2 separate regions of the Homo sapiens genome follow, and region 2 is linked to region 1. Evidence: fine-mapped expression QTL. Tissue or cell type: thyroid. Region 1 holds a variant in brackets; the other region holds the start of a gene. All regions are shown on one strand. Distances are between the middles of the regions.

What was found. PIP is the estimated chance that this variant, and not a neighbour inherited with it, causes the effect.
Region 2: ARHGEF39 starts here. The variant in region 1 is fine-mapped to the expression of ARHGEF39 in thyroid (GTEx, PIP above 0.99). The same link has a PIP of 0.9 or more in esophagus muscle, gastroesophageal junction, hippocampus and spleen.

Annotation. Positions count from the first base shown.
Region 1 is chr9:35,637,392-35,640,072 of GRCh38, forward strand. It overlaps a transcript of CD72 not described here. Among named protein-coding and RNA genes, the nearest start is that of SIT1, 12 kb to the right of the region's middle. The variant T/C (reference allele first, on the strand shown) is at 1,348.
Region 2 is chr9:35,664,107-35,666,787 of GRCh38, forward strand. It overlaps ARHGEF39 (Rho guanine nucleotide exchange factor 39), which reads right to left and starts at 1,089. Exons shown (of 9, transcript NM_032818.3): 1 at 926-1,089; 2 at 650-744; 3 at 266-386; 4 at 1-20. The coding sequence starts at 1,063. RefSeq lists an enhancer at 878-957 and a silencer at 1,108-1,257.

The DNA.
Region 1 (2,681 bases):
CCTGTCCTCGCCCTAACTCTGTGAGGAGATCCACCTACAACCTCGGGTCCTCAGACCAACCAGCCCAAGGAACATCTCACCAATTTCAAATTGGGTAAGCGGTCTTTTCACTCTCTTCTCCAGCCTCTCTTGCTACCCTTCAATCTCCCTCTCTTGCTACCCTTCAATCTCCCTGTCCTTCCAATTCCAGTTCTTTTTCCTCTCTAGTAGAGACAAAGGAGACACATTTTATCTGTGGACCCAAAACTCCGGCGCTGGTCATGGACTCAGGAAGACAGCCTTCCCTTGGTGTCTAATCACTGCGGGGATGCCTGCCTGATTATTCACCCACATTTCATTGGTGTCTGATCACCACGGGGATGCCTGCCTTGGTCATTCACCCACATTCCCTTGGTGGCAAGTCAATTGTGGGGACGCCTGCTTTGGCTGCTCACCCACATTGCAGCCCAGGGCTGCTCATCACCCCCTGCTCCGTGTCTCTACCTTTCTCTTTAAACTTACCTCCTTCACTATGGGCAACCTTCCACCCTCGATTCCCCCATCTTTTCCCTTAGCCTGTGTTCTTGAAAACCCCTTCAACTCACACCTGACCTAAAACCTAAATGCCTTATTTTCTTCTGCAATACCACTTGGCCCCAATACAAACTCGAAAATAGTTCCAAGTGGCCAGAGAACGGCACTGTCAATTTGTCTATCCTACAAGACCTAGATAATTTTTGTCGAAAAATGGGCAAATGGTCGGAGGTGCCGTACATCCGGGCGTCTTTCACACTTCATTCTCTCCCTAGTCTCTGTTCCCAATGCGACTTGTCCCAAATCCTCCTTCTTTCCCTCCCACCTGTCCCTTCAGTCCCAACCCCAAGTGTTGCTGGGTCTTTTGAATCTTCCTTTTCTACCGACCCATCTGACCTCTCCCCTCCTCCCCAGACTGCTCCTCCTCAGGTCGCTCCCCACCAGGCTGAATCAGGCTCCAGCTCCTCTTCAGCCTCCGCTCCCCCACCCTATAACCCTTCTATCACCTCCCCTCCTCACACCCAGTCTGGCTTACAGTTTTGTTCTGCGACTAGCTCTCCCCCACCTGCCCAACAATTTCCTCTTAGAGAAGTGGCTGGAGCTGAAGGCATAGTCTGGGTACATGCGCCTTTTTCTGTATCAGACTTTTCCCAAATCAGCCAGTGTTTGGGCTCTTTCTCATCAGACCCCGCTAAATATATACAGGAATTCCGATATCTAACTCTGTCCTGCAAGTTAACCTGCAGTGACTTAAATGTCATCCTGACTTCCACCCTCTCCCCAGATGAACAGGAAAGAGTTTTTTCTCTAGCCCAGTCTCACGCTGACAACCGC[T/C]GGCTTCATGAGCCAGGCCTCCAGGAAGGCATCAGAGCAGTTCCCCGAGAGGACCCCCAAAGGAACTATCAGGCAGATTCCCCAGGTATAGCTAGGCGAGATTACATGATTTCCTGCCTAGTTGAAGGGCTTAAAAAGGCAGCACACAAAGCTGTTAATTCTGACAAGCTAAAGGAAACTACCCAAGGTAAAGGCGAAAACCCAGCCCAGTTCCTGGCCCGCTTGGCAGCAACCCTTAGACGCTTTACCGCCCTAGACCCAGAGGGGCCGGAAGGCCGCCTTATTCTTTTTTTTTTTTTTTAGATGTATTTTACTTTTATTTTTTTAATCTTTGGGCACAAAGATTTGACACATTATTTCAAAAGAATACAACTACTCATCCAGTAGGAATAAATTCAACAAACATTAATTGATGAGCAAAGTACTGGCTTTAAAAAAATAAACTAAGTAAATTTTTTTTCCCTTGGGTAATAAAATAATAATAAAAGAAGAGACATTGGGTTAAGCACCCTTAGGGCAAAATAAAAATGCAATTGGTTTCTCAAAAACTTGCTTTTGACATCTCAAAAAAAGTCATGCTAGGGAAATGAGCTAAGAAAGCACATTGTTATTTGTACGTGGTAGTGTGACATCCTTGCCATGTTGAAGGTAAGACCATCTAAAGGTCAAGACAGTACACAGAGACTATAAAAACAAAATTGAAATAAAAAGCAGGATAATAAAATGAAAGGAAAAGTAGAAACTGCCAGAAAGAAGCAGAAGCAGCACAACTGTCAAGGAGACAGTGTAAATTCAGATGCCATCAAGCTTTACCACAAAGAGATAAAGGAAAAGGCCAATTTTGATGACAAATGACAAAGTGTAACATCCAAAGAGAAATGGAGAAAAAAGAGGTCATCTGTCCTCCTGTGAACATTTGAATAGTTCTCAGATACACTTAGTTTGAGCAGAATTATGTGATTACTGAGTTCTTCCCTCTCTGCTTGGCAAAAATGATGGAAGTCTTGTCTCCAATTTTAACCCTATTTGCCTTTTTGCAACAATATGGCAGGTTGTTTACATGCTGGCTGGGGAAAGGGAAACTAAGAGTAAAAACCAACCAGTTGTTACTTTGCAAAATGGAAATGTAACTCTGAGGATTAAGCAATCTTGACTGCTAACAAAATTAATTCCTGAACACCATGAAAAAGGAAAAAATACATAGAAATTGATATTTTAAACGTTAAATATTCAGCAGTTTCTCTTATTTGGCAAAATCTTTTTGAAGCAAAGCTGATCTCATTTTGGTTTAGATCACATCAAAGAATTTCCACCAAAAATGACTGAATTATTGC
Region 2 (2,681 bases), 27 kb after region 1:
TTATTTTTCTTTAGCTGCTCCTGGAGTGAGGGAGAAAGGATTGGAAGCAGGGAGAGAAGCCACTCCTTATATTGCATTCATCTGTATCCACATTCCCAGCCTTCAGTAAGCTGTGCTCCTGAGAGAAACTCTCGTTTCTCTACAAGGAACTTACCACAGAGCTGAGCACCCAGAGGGCTCTATAAATGCAGGAAATGTATGAAGTTTGGGTCTCCAGATGAAGGGGAAAGGTAAGGGGCAAGATTTGAGGTCATCTCCAGGTTACCTGCAGGGTGGTCTGGGACCTCTCTGAGTTGGCAGCAAATTGGTTATAGAGCTCCAAGTGGCGGCAGAAGCCCTCCAGCCCTTGGCCCCAGCATCCTCCTTCCAGGTAGGGAAGCAGCTCCCTGTGTGGGCAAGGACAGCAAAAGGGCAGCTCTAGAACCACTCAAGCACCACCTCATTTAGTTTTCATGAGAATAGCACTAATAGTAGTGCTATTACCCCATTGTACAGATGGAGAACAAGGGCATGCTAAGGCCCTGGGCCAAGGCCACAGGTGAGCTAACTGGCGGACTCCAAATAGAACCTAAGTCTGACTCCAAGCTCTGTGCACGGCCACAGGCCAGGACTCTCCCTCCTTTCCTCTCCCTGTGCCCCTTCCACTCACTGGCTGGCGCCGTAGATGAGCTCCCAGGAGCCAAACAGGGCCTGGCGCTCAGGTGGTCGCAGGGTCCCCTTGGCTTTCAGGATCCCCAAAAAGTACTGCGGAAGGAGAGAACATTGGTTCTTAGCCTAGAGGAAGAGAAGGCTAACGCCAAGCGCCCCCAGAAACCGCAGAAGTCTGCCCAGGCTCCCTACATGCTCCGGGTTACCGACCTCGCAGAGACCCTCCCACACCCTGGGGTCCCTGTCCTATAATGGGAGCGTGTGCCAGGTCCCCCACCGTGGCCACCAGCCCCAGCTGTTCTTGGTAGCGCCGCTCGGTCTCTAGCAGCTCCCGGGCGGTGCAGGCGCGTTTCCGCTCCCAGCGGGCACGCTGCTCTTGCACCGGGCACCGCGAACCGGGGCAGGAGAGCTCCATGCCCTGGCTGAGGGATCGACACTTCCGGCTGCAGTCCGCGGCAGATTCAAATCCCAACCGCTCGCGGGCGGGAGCCGCGGAGGCGGGGCCGGGGAGGGCAGCGCGCAGGAAGGAGCATGCGCGGCGAGCGGCCGGACCGCGCAGGGTCTCTTCTGTCCAGCCCCACCGCCAGAGCGGCGCTTTAGGTGCGCGGCGCCGGCCAAGGCAGGGCAGGGCAGGGCAAGGTTGGGGGCAGGTGTGGAGCCCTCCTCTGAGTGGCACTATGTTGGAGCAGCAGCCTGAACTTTGAGTCAGGAGACGGGCTGCAGATGCTGGCAGGAACTTAATGTCCTATCTGGAGAATTGGGACGGGGGGCGGTCATTACAGTACACATTCTGTCCTGGGCCCATGCCAAATGCCAGGGGGTCAGTTGTTCCCAGAATTGGCTAGGAAAAGGTATAGCCATTTGAAGGAATGATATGAAAGTATTAAAAATGGTGTTGTAAAGAAGCTATCGATATGGGAAAACGCACATAGTAAGTATATTGCTGAGAGGAAAAAAAGCAGGCTACAAAGGTGTATAATATAATCCCCTTTGTATAAAACATATATAAAATGTTGGAAGGCAAAACAATCAAAAGTTAACTCTGTTGCCAGGCACGGGAGCTCACACCTGTAATTCCAGCACTTTGGGAGGCAGAGGCAGGAGGATCACCTGAGCCCAGGAGTTCGAGACTCCATCTCTCCAAAAAAAAAATAAATAAATAAAAAATAAAAATAAAAAGTTAACTGTGGTTTTTATCTCCGGGTAATGGAATTGAAGATAATGTGTTTAACAAATGTGTATTAAGTACCTAATCTGTATCTGTGCCAGGCACTGGATCACTGAAGCTAAAGGGATGAATGGGACAAACAGGGTGATTTTAAAAATTCTCTTATACTTCTGCCTTTCCCAAGTTTTCTACATTAAGCATGCATTACTTTGTAGTTAGAAAAAAAAAGTTATTAAAAAAAACAAAATGTCAGAAACTTTAGGCTCCCTCCCTACTGTTTTGGACTCCTAGGAATCTGGGCCGCAAGCCAAGAACCAGAGGATTGTCAGGGTTCTGAGGTCTCTACCACCTCCCCACCAGCTCTGACATTCTAAGAATTCTAAGAAAGGAATAATGCTGGGCTTAGACCAGGGAGGAATAACTTGAAGGGCTTGGATGAAGGAAGGGGAGAGTTTGGATCAGACTGTACCTTGGGCTTATGTCCCAAGGAAACTGGTGGTGATACCAGATAGGTAAAGGACTGGTTACACTGTCTCAAGTGAATGTGGGACAGTCCACACACTAAGAGCTCAAACATGGAAGAGGACAGATAATCCCATGGTAATTGGTGTCACTGTGAGCCCAGGTGATGAGAGTAGACCACAACACCTGGGGTGCAGTTGGTGATGGGTGTGTTTGTGAATGCTGCCAGTGTGTGTTAGTGCTTTGGGTGGGTGGAAGAGGGGTGGGGAATAGAGCCTCCTGTGAGCATCGGTTGGGGAATCATTCAACTCTAGAAGAGGAAGAGGGCAAAGCCGAGAAGACACACTGAAAACAGTTGGTGACAACTAATTCCCTGGGGACCGAGTCTCCCACAGAGCAAGTC